2 separate regions of the Homo sapiens genome follow, and region 2 is linked to region 1. The links come from fine-mapping of genetic effects on gene expression. A gene starts in region 1. The other region holds a variant in brackets. All regions are shown on one strand. Distances are between the middles of the regions.

Region 1 (12,046 bases):
TTTCTCTTGGAGACAGGGTCTCACTCTGTCACCCAGGCTGAAGTGTAGTGGCATGAACACAGCTTTCTGCAGCCTCGACCTCCCAGGCTCAAACAATCCTCCTATCTCAGCCTCCTGAGTAGCTGGGAATACAGAGGTGCGTGCCATCAGGCCTGGCTAGTTCCACAAACTCTTGTTAAATGAGATGAGGTTGGAAGGGTTAAATGTGGAGCACTGGCTTCACTAAATGATGTTCTGAATGAACTTACTGCAAGAAATACTTGACTTACAGGATATTCTGCCATTACACATTAGCTTGCTGTTTTGACTAGGTCTGTCTGTGGGTCTAACACCCTCATTTTATCAACGGCGAGGCCAGAATGGTTAGGTGACTTCTCTAGCAACACACAGCTAGTGGCTCCCAGGAGTAGAACCCGATCTCTCAACTCCTAGACCACTACTCTGTTTACCACACTCATACCCGTGGAGGTTGAGTAGGGAATTTGGGGACCAGGCCTGTCCTCCCTGAGCCTCCCCGACTCCACCCTTTGATCCCCTTCCTGGCATTTGCCTTCCTCCCACTCAAGGATACAAATGCTTTAAAGATGTGGAGACTGGAAGTCCCAGGCAGCCTTAGCTTTTGTGAATGTCAGAGTCAGCCATCCAGAACATGCCCTAGCTTTCCAGGTGGCCTCTTTGTAACAATGTTTCTTTCTATTTATCAGGTGAGCTGGTCACCTCCTTAGACGTGGCAGCAGGAAGCAAGCAGTCCTTACCACAGCGATATTTGCTCAAGTTACTCAGAGGAGGGCTCAATTACAAGTTTCTTTGGAAAGTGATAACTGTCACCACTCTTACCACGGGCACAGGTGTGTGGAGCTAGACATCATATTGGGGAGGGGGCAGGTTAATTTCACACTACTGTTGGGGGAAATGGGGCTGAGAGGCTGTTTGGCCAAATGACCGTCCTTTCTTCCTCATAAGCACTTTCTCTCCATCAAACACAGCACTCATCTCAAGTCCTCTGTACTCATACTGTGAACAGAAGAGCAAATTATCTTCTCCAAAGCCCTCCTCCCACCCCTGACCCTTTTGATCACAGAATGTGGGAGGTTTTTATTTTTCCCCGTAATTACACCTTCAAGACACTTCAGCTTTTCTCCAAGACTCAAGCTGCAATACTGTGGCTTATTTTCCCAGGAAGATACGCTGAAAATTATTTCTGTAGCTAGTCTGTCAAGTTCCCCCAACATATCAAGGTTCATTTTATGTTTGCATAATTTTTTTTTTTTTGAGATGGAGTCTCATTCTGTTGCCCATACTGGAGTGCAGTGGCGGGATCTCGGCTCACTGCAACCTCCGACTCCTGGGTTCAAGCGATTCTCATCCCTCAGCCTCCCGGGTAGCTGGGATTACAGGCGCCCGCCACCACGTCCGGCTAATTTTTGTATTTTTTTAGTAGAGACAGTGTTTCGCCATGTTGGCCAGGCTAGTCTTGAACTCCTGACCTCAAGTGATCTGTCTGCCTCGGCCTCCCAAAGTACTAGGATTACAGGTGTGAGCCAATGCATCCAGCCTGTTTGCATGATATTTTAAGCTTAAATTACCCAAACATGGATTTTCTATTGAAAAACTCAACCCAACTTTGCTCACCACTGTATACCTAGAGCAGCGCTTGGCATGTGGTAGGCACTTGGTTAATATTTGTTGACTTATTCCAAGAAAAAGTCACCAAAAATCAAAATAATATGCCACCAAACAGGAGGTTCAACAGTTCACAGGTTTTTCACTGGAGACCCTGTAGGCCCTTCCAGGTGGGGCAGGGGTGTGCAACGGTTTATCCCTAGGAGTGCAGAAGTGGAGGGAGGGTTCCAGGTGGAGATGAGGTGGGATTCTCTAATCACCTAGAAGCCTTGGTGACAACGAGACTGGGCTTGAGGGGGAGAGTTGGGGGAAAGGACAGAGAAGGGACAGGGAAGTGATGAGAAGGGTGGAAGACAGGAGGGGTATTCCCGAAGGCCTCTTGGGCCAGTCTTCAAATTGGGAAGGGGGCTTAATGGGAGAGACTAGAATTGAATTTTTCCTTTTCTCCTCATCCCCCAGTCTGCTCTTGGCTGCAGAACTTTCACCCGGGGCCACTGGCTACTCAATGTACCATCCCCTGGGCTCAGGGTCTGTGCCCAGCCTCCTCTGCTAGCCAGCCTGCCCAATTTCCCCATTGCTGCCAGAAGCATTGAAGTCCGTGAAACAAGCCAGCCCCTGTCCCACTCTCAGACAGGTCGTTTTTAATCCTGTCTCAATTTCAGGTTCACCCCACACCCGCTCCCAAGTCCTGCTGATTCATTCCCTGCCTCCGGGTTCCTCACTGTCCTTTCTGCTTTCAAAACCTTCATTTGAAATTGGGCCTTTATCAACTAGCATCTGGAGGATCAGCAGGAGCTGCCTGCCAGCCTCCTTTGCCTCGGGCCCCTCTCTCTCTTTCACAATCAGGACAGCCGTATTCATATTCCTTGAGCACTGTTTGACTGTGGCAGAAACACAGAGGGGCTGGCCGGGTTGCTTCCTGTTTGCTGCTCACCCTCAAGCCCAACCAGATGCTTGGCACTCACTGGCTATCTTTTCTTCCTCAAAGCCTTTCCCTTATATTCTTGCTAAGCAAGCCATATTTCTTTTCTTTCAAATTCTTACCAGAGACTCCCCTCTTTCAAGAAGGCTTCCTAGACTAAGGTGCATCTTGCTGCCTCAGTTTCTAGGTGTTATTTGTTCCCAAGTTTCTCTACTACCCGTGCTTTCCTTACGTGGGATTTCCCCACTAACTATCATGGAGAAGGGAGAACCAACAGGCCTAGACGGTAGACCACCTAGATCCTATTTCCTTCTCCTTCCCAATCCTTGAGTCTTGGTCCCCAAACTTCTGTCTCCAGAATGTTCTTCCTGACCAATCTACCTGGCCTTCCAATCCCTGTCGCATCTCTCTGCCTTGAGATGTATGGCAATGCTATTTTGCTAGTCTGTTCTTCATTCTCTATTACGTGCAGAGTTGAGGACTGGGTTGCTTTCTTCCTTCAAATCTCTACCTAGGCCTTAGGACCAAGTTGTTCAGGGTACGAGAGAATAAGCTGACCCCACAGGGCTGTCAGGTGCCACAAAAGTCTTCTAACAGTCCTTCTCCTCCCTGGAGTGAGCTCACCCTTGTTCACCACACAGGCCTTTTACACAGCACAATTACAACATTGAGCTCGACACAGAGACAGGCACTGCCCTGCACTTAACCTCCTGCTTATTCAAATCCTCACTCTCGTTCCTATCAAATGAGAATGAACATTTGGGCTTTCCCAGAAAGGGGCAGAGGACTGTGTAAAGAGCTGAGTTCACCCAAGCTACGGCATGGACACACCCAACCTGGTCTTCAGCATCCCTTCCAGGGCTGAGATGTCGGAACACATCCGTGGGAGCCAGAAAATGTTAAGAAGAATACCATCACCATTTTAAATATTACTGCTTACCATATCAAATCAAGTTACAGTTATCTTCTCTGTTTTACACAGAAGGAAACTGAAGCACAGGGAGGTCAAGTAACTTGACCAAGGTCACACAGCTAGAAATGTGGCAGAGGCAGAATTTGCATTCAGGCCTATGTATCTCCAAAGCCCACTCTCTTAACTATGACATCACATTGTCTTGCATTTGACTGGTGCTTGGAGCTTTGCCAAAACACTTCATATACACCTTCTCATTTGCTCCCCACCCAGGGAGTGTTTATGTGTTTTGGCTAAGATTATATATCGAAGTTAGTGACAGGGCTGAGTCAGCTGCCTGCCTTCATGATACTCACTGCCTCCCTGCACTGAGAGGCCCTCAGCCCTAGGGTTAGCTGCCCCTCCTGGTCCTGAGGTCTGTTCGAGGCAATGGTTGCATGGACTAAGTTCATGCTCATATTTCCTGTCCCCACTTCTTCCAGCTGAACTTGGGCAAATATGTTTCTGACCTCACAGGGCACCTGACACACATCAGGGCCTCCCCTTCTCTGCCCTGAGTTCTTCCATGCTGCTACAGGTAGGAGTCAGCTGTTCCACCCACTGTAGGACTGTGGGCAGCATTACTGAGGTGAGGTCATCTTGAGCAGCCCAGTCTCCTGCACACTTCCCTCTTTCTTTTGAGGGTCTTGTCCTGTTCTCTGCCCTGGTGCCCCTGGAAGCAACTTTCTCTGATTACCTCTGGGTTCCTAAAGTGCATGGCACCATTAAGGAACTGGAGCTAGGGAAATGCCTGCAATGCTACTGGCTCCTGCTAGGCAATTGGAATCAAAGCATATTTCTTTCTTTCTTTCTTTCTTTTTTTTTTTTTTTTTTTTTTTGAGACAGAGTTTTGCTCTTATTGCCCAGGCTGGAATGCAATGGTGCGATCTCAGCTCACTGCAACCTCTGCTTCCCAGGTTCAAACAATTCTCCTGCCTCAGCCTCCCAAGTAGCTGGAATTACAGGCGCCTGCCACCATGCCCGGCTAACTTTTTGTATTTTTTGTGGAGATGGGGTTTTGCCATGTTGGCCAGGCTGGTCTCGAACTCCTGATCTCAGGTGATGCACCAGCCTCAGCCTCCCAAAGTGCTGGGATTACAGGCATGAGCCACCACATGTGGCCGGAACCAAAGCATATTTCAAACCCCTCACCTGACCTGGTTTTCATCATCACATGAATTTCCCTGTCTCATCCTTCTTAACCTTTCCTTTGATGGGAAGGGAGACAGCTCATCTGTCTGGAGCGGAGAATAGGGCCTGTGTGGTGCACACACATCTCTGGTAGAAGGCGCAAAAGTCCTCGAGGCTCTTTGGTGTGTCCAGAACTATGAACCTCACCCAGTGCCTGTAAATTGTGTGTGTGGGCCTGGGGGCGAGCTCAGAGCACAGAGTTAACATCCTTTCTGAGAGTGCTGCAATGGGTTGTCGGCTGCTAGAAGGGGTCTGCTGTAAGCTTTGTGGGCAAACTGACCACCCTCCACCCCCATACACAGAAGAGCCCCATCCTACCCTCTGCAGACGTCTGGGTCTGCGATGATTGGCCCTGGATGCAAGTAAAAGCTGTTTCTCCTTTTTGTCAGCCTGGGAATCTGAACAACTGAGGAAATAGGGAAGTCGGTGACAGTCACAGTCATGAACACCCAGCAGATTCCATTTCCCCACAGCAGGAGGCAGATCCCTTCCCACCCCCAAAAGCCCCCAGGCTCTGGAGGGAATTCAACCAAGCAGGGCTCAGACCGACCTCCACCAGCGAGGCTTCTCCTTGCTGTCCCCTTCTGCTCAGGCGCAACGTGGCAGGGCAGGAGGAAACCTCTCTGCAAGAGTTGCCGTACCAGAGCACATGGGGTGGCCCGATCTGGGGAGACGGGGCACAGAAGGAATGCAGGGCATGGGTGGGTGAGGGGAAGAGGGTGTGGAGCCCTGGCTCTGGCTTGTCCCCCTCTCACCCCTCCAAGTTCCAGAGGTCTGGGCTCCTCATTCATCTCGTAAGCGCCAAGGTGGAGGGGGGTCCTACCGAGGGAGGAGCTACAGGCCACCGCGACCAGCAGAGAGCGAAGGCAGGAGGGACCAGCCTGGCCCAGCCCCTTCATTTTACTGTCGGGGGTAGTGAGGAGGAAGAGGAAGAGGCGAAGGCTGGCGGAGGAGGAGGTGAGAGCGAGGACTCGGCAGAAGCGAGATCCGCCGAAGGGAAGTCCGAGCAGTCGGGGAGCTCAGGGGGGCCCTCCCGGGGAGAGGGTCGCGGGCTCCTTCTGCCGCTTACCTGTCGCGCCGAGGCAAAGCCGCAGCCGCGCCGCGGGGTGGCTCCCGGGTTTCCCCACCGGACGGCCGGGAGGGTGGGACCGGGGCGGGACCTCCCCCAGCTGCACTAACGCGCCCGCCCCGCCCCTCCCTGGCCAGGTGCAGCGGGTCCCGCCGTGTCCTCAGCCTGCTGCGGGCCCGGGAACTCCCGGCGGACCGGCAGAGGGGCGCCCCGGCTTCTCTGCGTCTCAGCCCGCCCCGGGGGTGCGGTCTTTGCGGCCAGGCTTTCAGCGCGGAAAAAGATTGGAGGGTCCTAGTCACCCCAAAGAGGACAGGCATTAGCAGAGCCGCGGGCGGCGGGTGCATGGAACCGGAATGTGCTGCGCGCCAGCCTGGAGCGCTCGGAGCCCGGAGGCCTGCCCCGGAGGGGGAAACGCGGCGGGGCGGCCATGGGCCCCGGGGTCCTGCCCCAGGTTTGCTTCTCATTTGTGCTCCATCCAACAAGAGCTCGTATTCCGTGTGCCATGAACTGTGTCAAGGGCTCCAAGTGCCAGGTATCAGGTGAATCCCAGCCCCAGCAAACTTTAAACCTACTATGATTATTCCGAATGTACCGGGGAGGCAGCTGCTCACACAGCAGAGGGTGTTTCTCAAAGTGGGATCCCCCACCAGCAGCGCCAGTCAGAATCACCTGAGAACTTATTAGAAATTTTGGCCGGGCGCGGTGGTTCATGCCTGTAATCCCAGTACTTTGGGAGGCCGAGGCGGGCGGATCACAAGGTTAGGAATTCGAGACCAGCCTGGCCAACATGGTGAAACCCCGTCTCTACTAAAAATACAAGAAATTAGCTGGGCGTAGTGGCGGGCGTCTGTAATCCCAGCTACTCGGGAGGCTGAGGCCGGAGAATCGCTTGAACTCGGGAGGGGGAGGTTGCAGTGAGCCGAGATCACGCCACTGCACTCCAGCCTGGCGACAGAGCGAGATTCCGTATCAAAAAAAAAAAAAAAGAAAAAAAGAAAAGAAAAGAAAAGAAATGGGCCCCACCGCAGACCTAAATATTCCGAAACTCGGGTTGGGCCCGGCGACTTGTGTTTTAAAAGCCCTCCGGGTGATTTTGTGCATGCTCGACCTTGAGAACCCTGAACAATTAGTGGCAGGGCTGGAATGAGAATCCTGGTAAACCCGCCTCCTAAGCCGGTGTTCGGAATTACCCCGCCAGGGCCCGTGCTGCTCAGTGGTCCTCTCCGGCGCTGCCTCGTGTGCTGCAATCTTTTGGGGCCTTAGCAACAGAGAAGGAGCGCGCATGACTCCAAATAGCCAATAATTTGAAAACTTTCTATGGTAGAAACTTCTACCACTAGTTCAGTTTCTCTTTTGTTTTGATATTTAAATAAATTTGTCTTTCTTTCTTTCTGTTTTCTTCCTCTTTCTGCTGCCCCGCCTCCCTCCTTTTTTCTTTTTTCTTTCTTTCTTACTCTCTCTGTCTCTCCTTTCTCTCTCTCTCTTTCCTTCTTTCTCTTTCTTTCCTTCTTTTTCTCTTTCTTTCTCTCTTTCTTTTCTTTTCTTGCTCTACTGCCCAGGCTGGAGTGCAGTGGAGCTATCACGGCTCACTGCAGCCTTGACCTCCGGGTCTCAAGCTGTTCTCCTGCTTCAGCCTCCACAGATGCATGCCACCATGCCCAGCTAACTTTTTTTTGTAGAGAGGGAGTTTCGCCATGTTGCCCAGGTTGGTTTCAAACTCCTGGGCTCAAGCCATCCTGTTGCCTCGGCCTCGCAAAGTGATGGGATTAGAGGCATGAGCCACCGAGTCCAGCCATGAATTTGTATTTCTAAGACCCTAAGACCTGGGAGCAGGAGCATGAGTGAGTAGATCCTAGCAAGAAGTTCTGACACGCACTGGGAAAGGCAGGGAAGCCAGCCGGGTGTTAACAGGTGAATGAAGAAAGTAATCTTTTTTTCTAACCTGAGACTCCAAGGTAGGTTTGATCTATTCAGAAGGTGAGATGTTCTTTGATGGAGTCAGGAGAGAAGGCCAGCAGAGTGTGGAGAAGAAGAGTTGCCCAGCTACACATGATCAGAGTGACGTGAAGGATGGACATTCTCCCAGGAGTAGAAAGGGGTTCATCTGCTCACTCTTGGCATGATGCCCGACTCCCCTAACTCTAAGCAGCCTTCCACCAACTCCCTTCCTTTCACATTCCAGGCCGTGGGCTTTAAGCTCCTAGAGAGACTTTCTACAGAGCTTCCTTGAGCATCCCTTAGCCCATCTGTAGACCCTCTGGACTCTGATTCCACCTCACTGCCCCAGCTGCTTCTATTCTTGTCATGTGCCTTACTTGACAGCTGTCTTTCTCAGAATGAGGGCACTTCCTGTGGAAGATTGTGGGATGCTGCCCCTCATGTCTCTCTTCTTGGGGCTGAACACTCCCTGTACAGGTCGGACCTACCGTCTTTGCTCTGTCCTTCCTCCACCTCTGCCCTTTGACCCTCAGGGGTTGTGTGATCCTGACGTGAGTCTTGCACCTTAGTCAGGACCCAACCTAACCTGAGGTGAATGGCCCCTATTCCTTCCCAGGACAGGGTCATGGCCATTACCCCCAGCCTGGTGCTCCTGAGAGGGCCGGGCCCAGCTTCCCAAGAAGTAGCAGCAGTCTGCGTTGTGTGTTTCGCATTCCGGAAGCAAATTACTCATCTGATTTTACTTCAGCTGACGCTGATTTTAAATGTGACTTGGAATCCTCAGAATAATTAGCTGCCTAATTTGGAGGTTCATGAGTCCGCAGGATGTGTGACCCACCCCTAATGTGTCATGCACTGAGCTGTTCTCTCCTAACAGGAAGGACGGTGCAGGCTTCCTCTCCACCAAGCCAGGAAGGTTTGCAGATGAGCCACCACAGAATAGTGACTGCAATTTCTGCCTCCGCTGGTACAGGCAACTTTCGAAAAATGGTTTTTTAGGCTGGGAGTGGTGGCTCATGCCTGTAATCCCAGCACTTTGGGAGGCTGAGGTGGGAGATCACTTGAAGCCGGGACTTTGAGTTCAGCCTGATACAGCGAGACCCTGTCTCTACAAAAAATAAAAATACAACAGGCACGGGGGCCCACTTGAGGGTGGAGGGTGGGAAGAGGGAGAAGATCAAAAACTACCTAGCGGGTATTATGCTTATTACCTGGATGACAAAATCATCTGTACACCAAACCCTCGCAACATGCAATTTACCCATGTAACAAACCTGGACATGTACTCCTGAACCTAAAAGTTTAAAAAACATATATGATAGTGAAAAAATGAAAATAAAATTAGCTGGGTGTGTTGGCATGTGCCTGTGGTCCCAGTTACTTCGGAGGCTCAGGTGGGAGGATTGCTTGAGCCTAGGAGTTAGAGGCTGCGGCGAGCTGTGACTGCAATGCTACATTCTAGTCTGGGCAACAGAGCAAGACCATGTCTCTGAAAAAAATAAATAAAAAAAAAACGGGTTTCTGTAAATGAAAAAGTTATACGTAAATGAAATGGAAAATAAAAATGAAAAAGTTATATATGCACATGGTAATAAGTCAGGCACTATGAAAATGTATACAGTGAAAGCTCCATTTCCCACCTCTCTAGACATTGTCTCTATCTCCAGAAACCTTGGGTCCAAGGTCCCGTGCATATTCCTGACTGAAAGTTCCCATAAGCGCTTCTGCAGGACATGTCTAGATTCTGTTAACTGCAAAGACCCAGGATGACCCCTTCTCAGGAAGTCCTATGAATTTCTTTTTTTTTTTTCTCACGATCTTATTTTTATTTCTTGGCTGTTTTAGATTCGGGTTTTGGGTGTTCTGAGTTTCACTTTTCACATGAGTGTGCATCAAGGGTGTTCCCCACCATAAGGCAGGAAACCTGGAGGGGAGCAGAACAGTGGAAGTGTGACAAAGGCAGCTCTGTGAGGCCGTTGACACCAGCCCTGGCCTTTATCTAGTCTCTTCCTTCCACACGGTCCCTGGTGAGGGGATACCCACCTCTGGTGGGGCAGAGTGAGGGAGACCTGCCCTTCAGGGGGAGGTGCTGGCTCCACTTAGCTAGGGGAGTGTGCAAGGGATGCCGTGAACTTGCCAAGGAGGTTAGTAGGGAGGCCAGCTGGTCAACCTCCCTCTGTCCTATCACTACCTCTCATCTCACCCACTCTCCTCTACCCTGAGGGAAACAACGGAGTCTCCCACTCCCTCCCTACCTCTTTGTTTCTTATCTGTGAAGTGCAGTTAATGATACCTGGGGTTGTTAATGAAGCTCAAGTGAGATAACACATGAAAGTGTGAGAGTTGGGTCTTCTAAATTACATCTGCTGCTCTACTTTCCTGCATATTCACATTTACTCCTCATCTCATTCCCATGCTCAGGAGAGAAACAGTTAAAGCGAGAAATATTTTAGGGAACCCAAGCAGAGCTGCTCCTAGTTCTGCCATAATCACTCATGCGCTACAATTCACCCATTTCTGTGTGCCTCAATTTCCTCATCTGTAAAATGGATATGTTATTTTTATGATTGGGTTGTAAGATTAAATAAGCAAAGTGCTTAACCCAGCATCTGGTACACAATAAGCAGTCAGTTGAAATTTGGATGTTAGCCATTATAATATTAGCTGTTTTTCTTCTTTCCTTCCTCCATTCCTCCCTTCAATAAAATGCTGTTAAAGTGCTCCATGTGTTAGCCTCTATGCTAGGTCAGGTGTGGAGATACAAGGATAATAAGTCATGTCTGTCTCATCCAGACACCCATAGTTTGTCAGGGGAGCCTGATGTAAAAATGACTATGAAGGAGCAGGGCTAGGACTAGGGTAAGGCAAGTGAGGGCACTTCTCTTGAGTGCAAAATTTATGGGGGCATCTAAAAACTCAGTAACCAAGATAAATAATACTTTAATGCAATATTTTAAAAAAATCAAAATTAATGCAAAAAATCAGTGATGGACAAAGTATCAAAAATTCAAAATAAAGAATCAGCTGGGCCTGGTGGCTCATGTCTGTAATCCCAGCACTTTGGGAGGCTGAGGCAAGAGGATCACTTGAGCGCAGGAGTTTAAGACCAGCCTGGGCAACATAGTGAGACCCCATCTTTATTTAAAAAAAAAAAAAAGACTAGTTTCCTTCTAAGCCATATTGAAGCCTAAGGAAAAAAGAAAAATATATACCCTCATACATATTTTTCTGTATTTTTTGAATGGTTATTTTTTCCTAGAGCATTAAAGTAGTTGAAAAAACATTTAAAACTTGAAACATAGGTGTATTAAAACTCACAGCATTACTTTAAATATTTTATTTGTTCCAAAATGGAATTTATTATGATTTTACTTCAGCCTTAGTTAATTTTTTTTTTTTTTTTTTTTTTGAGACGGAGTCTCATTCTGTCGCCCAGGCTGGAATGCAGTCGCACGATCTCAGCTCACTGCAACCTCCACCTTCCAGGTTCAAGCGATTCTCGTGCCTCAGCCTCCCGAGTAGCTGGGATTACAGGTGTGTGCCACCACACCCGGCTAATTTTTGTATTTTTAGTAGAGACGGGGTTTCACCATATTGGCCAGGCTGGTCTTGAACTCCTGACCTCGTGATCCGCCCACCTCGGCCTCCCAAAGTGCTGGGATTACAGGCGTGAGCCACCACGCCCGGTCTCAGCCTTAGTTAATTATAATTTATTTAAGATCATCACTTGGTCAAGGGAAACTGTCAAACGTGGCAATCTTACAATTCAAAATGAAATAAGCAAAACAGTTAGTTTTGAAAATATGACTAATGAGTTTGCTTGCCTTAAAGCCAGGAGCTTGTATTTTTCCTTTTGCCTCAAGCTCCAATTTGGCTTAGCATGGCATTGGATTGGGACGTGGACAAAGAACATAAAGAGAACAGAGAGGAGAATAAGAGACAGGGAGAAGGGTTGAAAGAGTCAGGTGGGATGGGGAATATATTATTTTTCCTAATGATCCAAATATCACATTTTCAATGTGCAAAATTTCAGATGCACAGAAAATCACAAAAAAAGAAGACAAGTTATCCATAATTATGTTACCTAGAGATAACCAATGTTGCTATTTTGGTATGATATAGTCTGCTCTTTTTCTATGCATATATGATTTATATGTACATATAAATTTCATCAATTCTAAGGTGCATTTTTAAAAATCTTTAACATATCTGAAATTGGTATGTATCTTAAATTGATGGTGTTATAACTTAGCAGTGTTGGATAATGCCTGTAATCCTAGCACTTTGGGAGGCTAAGACGGGAGGATTGCTTGTGTCCAGGAGTTTGAGACCAGCCTGGGCAACATAGTGA
Region 2 (12,046 bases), 31 kb before region 1:
AGGTCAGTCTGGGCCACAGACCTCTTAACGGTGCTACCAGGGACAATGCGATGGGGTGCAATTGACAAAAGCCAAGGGAACCCCACAAGGCACAAAGAGGACACTTCCCCATTCCTTTCCTGCCCTCTCATGAGACACATTCCTGAGTTCCCACCTCTATCTGGTGCCAAATCCCCATCCCTAGCTTCAGACTGAGTGGATGAAATGGTGAAAGACAAGACCATGGGCTGAGAGAAAAATGCTTTCAGGGCCTCCCGCACCCCCAGATGGCCAGGCTCAAAGACCCAGGGCCACTGCTCCACCTCCAATTTTCTGCCTTGGATTATGTTTAGACTGCTCCCTTCCCTGCAGCCTCCAGGTTAGGTTCCTCTTTCCTAAGCTGGGGTGGAGTAGGGAGGCTCACTTGGGGTGCTGGCTTGAGCTCAGCATGGTGGCGGTTACATGGCATATCCTGGAGCAGTGTGGTGTAATGGAAAGAGCCCGTGCTTTCAAGTCAGACCCATCTGGGGCTAAATCCCAGGCCTGCCATTTACTAGTGATGGGTCTTGGGCCAGTCACAGACATGCTGGGCTTCCTCCGGCTCCAGCTCATCTGTAGAAACAGTGACTATTCCTGCTTGGAAAGAGCCTCTGAAAGATTAACTGGACCCAGGCATGTGAGTGCCTAGCTTTGAGCCTAGGACACAGAGGACAAGCAGGAACTATGAATGACTCTTCACCTTCTTCTAATTGGGTTCAGCCTAAAAATGCTTCAGCCATGGCAGAGCTAGCCACGAACCATAACCTGTCACCCCATTTTTACATCAGTCATCACCAAATACCCTTTAAGCCTGAAGAACCCTGCCTGTGGCCACACACACACTCACCTACCTTCTACATTGCTCTACTCCACCCCATGGCGTCTCAGGAAGAAAATGAAGAAAATATAGAGGGGCCGATGTGGCCTCAAGTTCTCTTTTTATTTTTTATTTTTCCCAAGATGGAGTCTTGCTCTGTCACCCAGGCTGGACTGCAATGGCACGACCTCAGCTCACTGCAACCTCCGCCTCCTGGGTTCCGGCAATTCTCCTGCCTCAGCTTCCTGAGTAGCTGGGATTATAGGCGCCGACCACTATGCCCAGCTAATTTTTGTATTATTAGTAGAGATGGGGTTTCACCATGTTGGCCAGGTGGTCTCGAACTCCTGACCTCGTGATCTGCCCTCCTCGGCCTCTCAAAGTGCTGGGATTACAGGCGTGAGCCACCACACCTGGCCTCAAGTTCTTGATTCTGAGCTTTCTGGACACTGACTCACCTGGGCCAATTCCCATTCCTCGTCCTTGGGGACCTGGCTATTCTTGCCAGTGAAGTGACAGCTCCCAAGGCCCAGAGCACCCTTGCTGACATGTAGACACAGCTGCTTTGCGATGTTGTGGCGAAGGTCCCTCTGAGTTGTGTACTCAAAGTACTGGAAATCAAGACAAGAGAAGCAGGTGGAGAGTTCACCCCCAGCCTTCCAAAGCCACCTGCCCTGAGCTGTCTACCATGCATGGTCTCCTGGGGAGGAGAGTGAATGTGAGGCCATGCCAAGACTTTACTCATTTATGTGCTGCCTTCAGGATTGTTACCATATCAGGGTTATGCTGGAATTTTATATACATATATATATATGTGTGTGTGTATATATATATGTGTGTATATATATATGTATATGTATATAAAATTCTTTTTTATGAGATGGGGTCTTGCTATGTTGCCCAAGCTGGTCTCAAACTCCTGAGCTCAAGTGATCCTCCCACCTTGGCCTCCCAAAGTGCTGGGATTACAGGTGTGAGCCACTGCGCCCAACCAGTATATTTTCTCTTTTTTTTTTTTTTTTTTTTTTTTGAGGCAGGGTCTTGCTCTGTTGCTTAAGCTAGAGTGTGGTGGCATGATCATAGCTCACTGCAACCTTGAATTCGTTTGTTCAAGCGATCCTCCATGTCAGCTTCCTGAGTAGCTGAGACTGCAGGCGTGTAGCACCACACTCAGCTAATTTTTTAAAAATTTTTTATAGAGATGGGGTGTCTTGCTATGTTGCCCAGACAGGTCTCAAACTCCTAGGCTCATGTGATCCACCTGCCTCACCCTCCCAAAGTGCTGGGATTACAGGTGTGGGCTACCGTGCCTAATCATATTTCCTTTAAATTAGATTAAAATTCAATTTAACTTAGCCTCATTTTAAGTAACATCCGTGAAATCATGTGATATGCTTGTTCTATTTTTGCTAATACATTACTATTAAAATAAAAAATGTTCTCCAGTGCACCACTGGAAATCATCTTGCAGGCCAGTGGTACAGGAAACTGCTGTAGAATGACTGTCTTCACCTACATATGCCAGCGGGCTTGTTCAGTGACCCACACCACTCCTTTCCCCACTCTGGCTCTGTTTTCAGTGCCTCTCACTTACTAGTGCTGGGCACCTAGTTTTGGGGTCACTGGAAGGTGGTAGGATCAGAGTGGTAGCTTCTGGGCAGAGGATGCATTGAAGATAGAAGTTGAGTGCAGGTGATGGGATGTGCTGGAAAATTTTCCACCCTCACCCCTAAATATCCCCCAGCAGCTAGCCTCCTCAAGCCTCCTCTGATGAACAACCCTCCCTCCCATCCCCTTCTCACACCCAGCACCGATGCCTCGTTCTCTCCGGATGTCCCTTATTCAGACCTTGTGTGTGTTATGCCTTCTCCTCCGACTGGAAGCTTCCTGAGGGCAGGGATGGTATCTCCTCCCTCCCAGTCCTCAGGAAAGGACTCTTTAGGGTAGAGAAAAGGAGCCGGTGAGGAGAGGAGATGCTCCGGAGATGGGTGGGCTGCATACCTGGTTGCCGCCAAGGCCGTGGCAGGAGTACATGATGAGGGGCTTCCCCCCGCGGTTGTTCTCACCCACATCCAGGCATTGGTTGGTGCCGAGGTTCTTGATCTGCAGAAGGGTGAGCAGAGAGGGGAAGCAGGATGGCACAGTCAGGAGGTTCCTCATGTGTGGTATGGGGCCCCACTGGAACAAATTCCAGTCAACTGCAACAAATTTGCATGGCTGGATTTCCCCCGTCATTTCTCTCCTCTGTGCGTTAACCCACATGCCTGGAGCTAACAGCAAAGTGAGCTGCAGAGCCCCAGAGGCTGGAAAGGGCAGGACTGAACCCCTCTGTGGGGCAGGCAGGGAACCTCCCAGGATGCCAGGTCCCTGGAAGAAGCCCTCAGCACGTGGGAGTTTCCTTATAAGCAGTGGTTCTCAAATGTGAGCCCTGGACCATCAGCATCACCTGGAGACTCGTGAGAAATGCAAGTTTTCAGACCTCCCCTGAGTCCTTCTGAATCAGGAACTCTGGGGATGGGCCCTAGCGTTTTACCGTGCCTTCCTGGTGATTCTGATGCATGCTAATGTTTCAGGACCACTGCTTGTGGGTTGTTTTGCCCTTTATAAGGTTTTTTGCTATCTCTAGAAGCCCCAACGTGGCCTCTCAGTCCTCCTCCTGGATAAAGGAGGGTGCAGGGCAAAACTCAATTCTTGTTTGTCATCCATCTGTGGGGTCAGTGGTCTTGAACTTCTCCAAGGGGTGCTGTGGTGATGGGCAGGCAGGTTGGTTCTCAAGACTTACGGCACCATAGAAGGTGGGCGTCAGGTCAGGAACAAACATCTCTGGGTAGACATTGTGCAGGTACCAGGAAAAGTTGTGACAGTGCAGTTGTTCCCTCAGCTGCAGTCGTTCCGAAATGTCACCGAAGGATTTCTGTCAATCAAGCCAGCCCCCTAAGGATCAGTTCCACCAGTTTTTTTTTTTTTTTTTAAGAGGGAGTCTCACTCTGTTGCCCAGGCTGGAGTGCAGTGGTGCAATCTCGGCTCACTGCAACCTTCCCCTCCTGGGTTCAAGCGATTCACCTGCCTCAGCCTCCTGAGTAGCTGGGACTACAGTCGCGCACCACCACGCCCAATTAATTTTTGTATTTTTAGTAGAGATGAGGTTTCACCATGTTGGCCAGGCTGGTCTCAAACCCCTCACCTTAGGTGATCTGCCCGCCTCGGCCTCCCTAAGTGCTGGGATTACAGGCGTGAGCCACCACACCCAGCCAGTTCCACCAGTCTTTGACCTTCCTGTCTGGGCTGAAGTAGTGCAGATAGCATGGAGCGCCTGGGGCTACTGTCTCTCATGTTCATTCCCACTCAGGACCTGTTAAAGATACTGGCCCAGCCCTCACATCCAATCCCAAAAACCCCGCCTTAGCTTTGGAGTCCCCTGCTTATCGGTCCATCTCCTGTGACTCCCCAGACAATTATGTCCCACTCCCCAGTGCCGAGGCTCTCAGAGCCATTCCTCCAAAGCCTCCAAAGCCTCCGTAAGAGGCTTTTCCTCCAAATCTCCTTTCCCTCCCTTCCCCTCCAAAGGGATGCAGAGACTCTATGCGTAGGGACAACATTCTCTAGCTTTTGAAACCTATGTGCCTTGTGGCCTTCTCCTGGGCTCTAGCTCACAGGTCCCTGAGGGTGAAGGGAGGCGCCAGATGGTAGAGATGAGGTGGGTCCCAGCCATTAGGCCCATGAACAGGGTCTGGGGGCCGTACTTCTCTTCATCTAAACCTCTCC[G/A]AGAACCATTTCCTCTCACCTCTTGGGCCATCTTTGCTGCCTGCAGATTTCTCCTATAGAAAATCTTCTTGTAGCTGTCCATCCAGACCTCTGCCAGGCGCACTTGATTGCGAGCAATGACACTAGTGCCCTTGGGGAAGGTGTGGGGGCTCTTGGTCCGGAACACATGGCCTACGACAGAGCAGGGGATGATCTCCAGCTGGCCCCCACACTGCCACACCTGATGTAAGAGGAGACAGGATGAGGCCTTCAGTGGGCTAGGTGAGACAGTCTCCCCATAAGCAGCTCTATTCTATTCCCAGAGCACCAGACCCCAGGTCCAAGGACTTGGGCAAATGCTGCTCTCTCTCCCTGGGAAAAAGGATACCGACCAGGCTTCTTCCTAGGCCATGACTACACGATCCCAGGCTTTCTGATGTTGGTTCACTCTGACTTAAGCACAGGGAGACTGCAGGGTCCTGTGTTTACCAGGGCCCACTTTAGGGAAAAGCCTGCTGGTTAATTTTTGTTACCTGTGCCTGTATACCTACTCTGAGCTCTGATCACTTGGCTTTTTGACCTGGAAATGTGAGTTTATCAGCTCCCTCAGGTGATAAAAACCAGAGCATCAGTCTGTTAATTAATAGCAAGGATAGTTGGCTGCTAGGTGGCTAGTGGTAGTCACTTGGGCCCTTAGCACACTGGCTGCCTAGGAAGGTGAACAGAGGTCAGAGGCTCATGGAGGAGCCTAGGATTGGGCCGCTGGGAGTTGGGGTGACTGGCAGGTGACCCTTTTCTATGCTGGTGGGCTGGCTGAAGACATCCCTCCCACTGGTTTCTTCTTTTGGGTTTTAGGTGGGAAAGTATGTTGTTATTCATTTTAGTGTGGCAGCAACAGAAATACATAATCGTTATAGTAACAGCAGGCATCAATTACGTGCTTAATATGCATCAGGCACCGTGAGAGGTGACTTCATAAATGAGCTCATCTACTTACTAATTACTTTTCCATGGCATGGAGATTTGTGTAGGTTTCATGGAGAGGCAATCCTTGCTTCCTGACCTAATCCTGATTTGCCTAATTCCTGGAATCTCTCAGAGTTCTGGGGTCCACCAGAGTTGGGGCCACCATCTTCTCTGACTGTTATGAAGGGCTTATTGTACATAGGTAGGGAAACTTCAAAGGTTACCAGGGCATGTGTCCTTTGAACTGGGAAGGGGAGCCTGATTTTTCCAGAAAAAGGATGATGACTGGTTACTCATCTGTTTTTTTTTTCTAGCCCTAGTTGTGAACATACTAACCTGTTTCTATCTTCACCCTAACCCTTTCCCACAGACATCGCAAAAGAGTCCCCAGTCACCAGATGTCCAGTCCTCATTACCCCTATTATTCCTTGCCTCTGAGAAGTTGTGCCCAGTAGTTTGTTTTGAGCTGTCCAGGCTGACTGCCCAAGCCCTACTGCCATGGACAGGGGGAGCAGAAAAGAGGAAGAGACACACTGGGAAATAGCCACCCTTTCTAGTTCAGTTCCAGATGGGATGTCCCTGATGCCACCTCTGCCTGAGAGATGTTTCTCAAGCTGTCGCCTGGGATGTTGTGGTTCCCCCCAAAGCCCTCTTCACTCTCACCCGGAAGGACATTTCCACGTTCTCCCCTCCCCAGATCTCCATCTGATTATCATAGGTACCGATGTGCTCAAAGTAGGACTTGGAGATGGAGAAGAGGCCACCAGCAAACGTCGGGGATCTGGAGAGACAGAGGGAGAAGTGTGTGCATCTTCTGGGAGAGGAGGAGCGGAGCCTGGCGGGGAAAGCTGTTTGTGGACTCCCCTCCTAACCCACCTCCCCCTCCTTTCCTCTTTCTCAGGACGTGCAGCCCCTCATCCACTAACTCACTCATCATTTAGCTTTTACTATGTCCTCTTCCCCTTCTAGGACCAGGTCAAGGAAATATGTAATTATCCTCTAAAAGGCACTCATTCATTCGTTCAACCTAGGATGCACGTAACACTGGCCACCAGGGCCCGTGCTACATGATGGACACACAGAACGGAGAAAGACAGATCCTATTCCCCCAGAGCTCAATCTAGTCACAGAGGTTAAAGCTACCATTAGTTACTTTTTGGCAGCAAAGTGCCTGGAGCCTAGGAGATACTCAACTTTCAGAAGCTGTGTGAAATTGTTTTTGAAAATAGGCAGGATTCAAACCATGAATAAATGAATGAATGAATATTGTCAGCTGGGCTGACTCCATTCTGTTTCAGGGCCCCTGCCCCTCAGGGACTATTAAGCCACAGTTTTAGTAGGCGCCTAGCCCTGGTGATTTACACTGCATGAGAAACTGTAGATTTGGGGAGAAGTTGCCAGTTGCTTTTAACAGAGAAAGCTGATAAAAGGTGCTCCTGGAAACAGTGGAAGGTCAGGTGAGATCAAGCTCAATTTGGGCTACAGGGAACATTTAGAAGGTTATAAAAAGATTCTGGCTTTCAGACACAGGCAGGGAGGTGTGGACTCAAGATAAGATAAATTGACAAAAACATCTAATTCCTAGAATTTAGATACCAGGTTGCTTCGAAGAGGGACTGGGCTAAGCGTTAGGGTATCGAAGCGGACCCGGGGAAGTATAAGCAAGATGGAATGCTGGGGTGGGGGCCGGTGAGACATGGCAGGAGCACAATCATCAGCTGCTGGTTTCTGTTTGGGCCAGCCTGGCATGGCTAGGGCTTTGCTGCCCTCAGTGGGCAGCTTCATGTGGTACAACCAAGCAGAAAGATACAGAACCCCTGTAACCCCAGAACCTATCTAGGTGCCTTACACACAGCTGGGGCCCAATCACTGTTCATTCGCATGATCCATCAAGGTGCCTACCCAGGAATGTGACCCTGGTGTTACCCTGTGGTTGCTCTTGTCTACCTGAAGTTGGCTCCTGCAGCCACTTTCTGGAAGGAATTTCAGTCGTGCTCAGGCTGGCTTCCTATCACTTTGGAAGAGGCTCTGGCCTCTCCCAGGGGTCTTAAACCGGCACAAGTAGCACCCTGAGAGGCTCAGAGAGTGCTGGAACTGCAGAGGAGCACTTGGAAGCCAACCTGCTTCCTCCCCCACAGGCCCTGAGTCTTGTCTTTGAGAAGTCTCCCAGACCGAGAAGTCACTGATGGATTAGCCATGAGGACAAACCCTGCATGGGAAGCTTCACTGTAAATTCACAACCACAGGCAACCTCTAGTAAACACCCTTTATGTCCTGGCCTACCCCTAGAATCCCCCAGGTCCTCTGCCTCTCCTCTTAGGCTCTGGTTGGCTTGAGATGGGAGGCCGGGAGGGGACTGTCAGCAGTCCTCCTGGGGTGGGGGCGCTACATGAAGAGCCTCGGCAAGCCATGCATGCTACCGGGGCATGTGGGCCAAGGAGCACATTCATTCCTCAAACACTGGAGCTTTGTCTTCCAGTTGTATGGCCCTTGGACATTGAAGCCTGCGACGTCAGTGATGGGTGGGGGCCAGGTGCCCTCTTTCTGACTGTGCTGCTGTGTGCCTGGTCACTGGCATGGGGGTGGGGGTGGGGATCTGTTGCAGTGCACACCAAACAAAAGGCAGCTATGAAACAAACATTGGGTCAGTGGAAAGTTCCAATTTCTTTTCTCTCTTTTGCCTTTTCCTTTCCCTCTCTCCTTCTAATGGAGACAGAGCAGCTGGCTGTTCAGGATCTGTGGGATTTCTCCCTGTGGCATTCACCTGAGTTCCTTTCTACTGGGACTCTGAGCAGGTTTTTTTTTTTTTCTTTTTCTTTTTTAAGAGATGGGGTCTTGCTATGCTGCCCAGGCTGTTGTTAAACTCCTGAGCTCAAGCAATCCACCTAATCCACCTCAGCCTCTCATCTAGCTGGGATTACAGGTGTGGGCCACTGTGCCTGGCATGGACAGCATTTTTTAGGATTCTGGGCACGTGGAGAGGAAGAAGCACCAATCCTTTCCTCCTTTCAAACCTTCCCTCTTATCTCTGGCTACTGTATCTCCAACCTCTGCATCCCTCCGTCCTGGATGTATATTCAGTTGAGCCTTAAGTATACTGGCCAGTCTAAGATAACAATGACACAAATAATCCCAAACCACAGGCTACACTAAAAGTCACTCCTCAACTTGGTTTGTCTGAGACAACTGTTAAAATAAACTTACAGTCTCCAATAACACCAACAGGCTGCCTGGAGAGGGGAGGATGGGGTGAGTATAAGAGGGAAAGGTGAGCCCAGTGGGCATTAAACTGTGGGTTGACTTCCAATTGTCTACCCTGCAGCTCAGGGGCTGGCACACAAGAGCCTGTGGGCAAAATCTGGCTGCCTGGTTTTAGAAGCCTCTGGGGCAAAAAATTATTTTTACATTTTTTAATGTTTGTAAAAAAAATAAAAAATAAATAAGATGAAGAATATGCAGCAAACTATATGTGGCTGGCAAAGCCCAAAATATTTATCATCTGGCCCTTCACCAAAGAAGTTCAGGGCAACTGCTACAAACTTCACGCTGCAGAAAATGTGTCTGTTTTCTTTTAGTATATTCTCAGTCTTTTCAAAGACAGTCACCTGGGGGCACATACCACTCCCTCTTATTACAGTGACTATTCCACAATGGCCTCCATCACATCTCTTGCCCCATCTGCAAGCATGGGCCACTCCTTTTATGTGTAGGGAGGAATAAACTAAAGAATGTATAGCCCTTAGTTCAGTGCCTGGCACATGGTAAGTGGTGAATAAGAGCAAACTGTCATGGTGAATAAGAGCAGTGCCACGGTTAGGGCCAGACAGTCCGGGAAGTGTGTCCTTGCTCCACTGTTGCTAGCTGCATGATCTTAGGTCAGTGTTTATCACTATGAGCCTTAGTATTCTTAGTATTGTACCTGCTTCATAGGGAGTGAGGATTAATCACAATATGTCAAGTGCTTGATAGAGCACCTAACAAATGTTGATGTGAGATGGCACAGGTTCCTGGAACTGGGTAGGACTGGGGCCAGGTTGGGGGCTCACCAGGCTGCGGTCCTTACTTGATGGGGTAGGTTTCATCCTTGCGCCTCTGCTTCTCATGTGGAGGAAGTGTTTCCCAGCCGAAGGTCAGGCTCCAGTCAAAGTTGCCTCGGCTATGGACTCTGCCCCTCTGGACGGGCTTGGCGAACTCAAAAGTATTAAGGTCGATGGTGACGATGTCTGGGCTCACCACCACTGTCTTGTCCTCAGCGATTCGAGCCAGGAGGGGCTCCAGCCAGCCGTGGAAGCACTCACCTGCAGGCCCCAACCAGGAGGCAGCAGTCAGGGCCCTGCCCACAGCAGAGCCCAAGCTGCATCCTGGAGGGAATGCCCAGGAGGATAAGAGACAGTCCACCTACTCCTGGGTTACAGGCAGCAAGCCCCACAGCTACAGGGAGCACACAGAATTTCCTAAAACCCTTCTACCACCCCTCTACCCCCAAAGGCGGAGGCAGCTTTGGCAGGGAGAATGGAGGTCTCAGGGGAGTAACATGGTCAACTCAGATGACCCAAAAGCACAGGGAGGCCCTGGATGGTATCTTCCGGGGTTCCAGCCGATCCATTGGCCCAGCCCTCCGGGCCCACGTGTGGATTTCAGAAGAGGGTGTTCCCCCTCCCAGGGGCATCCGCATGTCAAGCTTCAGCCCTAATTGTAGAAGAATAATCTCTTTCATTTGTCTAGCTCCTTGAGATTTTCAGTGAGCTTCTGCACGTATTATTACTTCATTCGGCCCTCAGAGTAATATTTCTGTTCAGTAAGGTTAGTATCCTCATTCCTATTTTATAAATGAGGAAACTGAGGCTGTTAGTGGGGCAGGGTCAGAATGCAAACCAAGAATTCTGACTCCAAGACTAGAGCTTCCCCTAATATATATCACCACTCCTAGGGAAAATATTTCATCCTCCACAACAGTGGGGAAGTGTTTTGGTTTTGGGCAAGAAGGAGGCCTTCCTGGCTCCATGTTGCCCTAGAAGAAAGCCCCAAACAAGCCAGTTCTGTCATAGCAGGAGGCCTCTCTGAGGGGCCAAGCTCAGAGCAAGGTGCAGATGGGAGTACAGGGAGGGATGAATGTCCGGGGCCCCGGTGATCACTGGAAATCACTTCCAGTGATTTTGGGGTCACCAGTTGTTTTAGGGATGTTTGTCTTCTTGATGAAACATCCTTGGGATTGGGGTGAGAAAGGGGTAGAGGCACCTGGAGTGGGTCCCAAGCCTCCTTCACTCCCGGAAGAGAGAACAGGAAGGGGCCTTGGGGAGGCTGTGGCCCTGGCTCATTCTAGCAGGGAGGGAGCCTCCAGGTTACACCCAGGCCGGTGCCCTGGTACTCACAGTGGGCATCCAGGAACGTGAGCACCTCCGCCTGTGCCACGCTGGCCCCCAGCAGCCGGGCGGTGATCAGCCCCTTCCGCTCCTCCTGCCGCACCACCCTCACCACCTGCAGCTGCTTCACGTACTGCTCCAGCTTCTCCTTTAGGTGCTCTGGAAGGGACAGTGTCATTGTGGCCAGTCCACCACTTTGCTGTATACCCAATCCCCTGTGGGCACCAAGCTAGGGGCTCTCAGGCCTCTAGCAGGCCTGAATTTTAAACCCCCAACACCTGCTGTACTGAGCCATTCCACAGAAGCCGGAGCTGGGGAAGGAGGTTAACAGGGAAGATGGGGAGAGGAAGAAAGAAGCCCTGTCTGTGGTCAAAACTGCCTCACCAGGGCTCTGGCTCTGTGGTGCTAGATCCTATGCCTGTTCACCTGGGCACCCTCTCTAATGTCAGGGACAGCACCTCAGAGTTGTGTTTCTGTGGTCACGTATCAAGTACAAACTTTTTGTTGTTGTTGTTGAGATGGAGTCTCATTCTGTCACCCAGGCTGGAGTGCAATGGCGTGATCTTGGCTCACTGCAACCTCCACCTCCTGGGCTCAAGTGATTCTCCTGCCTCAGCCTCCTGAGTAGCTAGGACTACAGGTGTGTGCAACCATGCCTGGCTCATTTTTACATTTTTAGTAGAGATAGCATTTCACCATATTGGCCAGGCTGGTCTCGTACTCCTGGCCTCAAGTGATTCGCCTGCCTTGGCCTCCCAAAGTTCTGGGATTACAGGCATGAGCCACCACGCCCGGCCCAAGTACAAAATTCTGACAGAGGCTCTCAGATGCCTCCCTCAGTTTCTCCACCCTCTCAGCCACCATCTTCCAGAGCTGCAATTCCACAGCTCCATTGCACGGTTGTTTTCCAGTGTCTAGGATTCCCTGTCTCCCAGGCTCTTCACGGTAACGTCGATGGGTGGGCATACACAAATGGTGACTCCTTGCTTGCTGGATCAGCAGCAGGACATCTGACTCTAATCCCCTTTGTAACCTCCTCTGCAGATAGAATTCTTTAAGGTGAAAACATGCCCAGCAGCTTTTTAATTATATTAAGAAAATACTTGCACCAAGCACCTACCACGGACCAGGCACAGTG

The links. PIP is the estimated chance that this variant, and not a neighbour inherited with it, causes the effect.
Region 2: its variant is fine-mapped to the expression of GALNT6 in lymphoblastoid cells (TwinsUK, PIP 0.95).

Annotation. Positions count from the first base shown.
Region 1 is chr12:51,385,844-51,397,889 of GRCh38, forward strand. It overlaps GALNT6 (polypeptide N-acetylgalactosaminyltransferase 6), which reads right to left and starts at 5,563. Exons shown (of 12, transcript NM_007210.4): 1 at 5,444-5,563; 2 at 5,007-5,094. It also overlaps a transcript of SLC4A8 not described here. RefSeq lists enhancers at 2,164-2,663, 3,689-3,778, 4,740-5,325, 5,326-5,910, 7,954-8,043 and silencers at 2,262-2,556, 5,596-6,135.
Region 2 is chr12:51,354,513-51,366,558 of GRCh38, forward strand. GALNT6 (polypeptide N-acetylgalactosaminyltransferase 6) reads right to left here. Exons shown (of 12, transcript NM_007210.4): 5 at 10,918-11,067; 6 at 9,609-9,843; 7 at 6,209-6,326; 8 at 4,620-4,820; 9 at 3,618-3,749; 10 at 2,837-2,938; 11 at 1,294-1,446. Among named protein-coding and RNA genes, the nearest start is that of CELA1, 14 kb to the left of the region's middle. RefSeq lists an enhancer at 3,292-3,341. The variant G/A (reference allele first, on the strand shown) is at 4,601.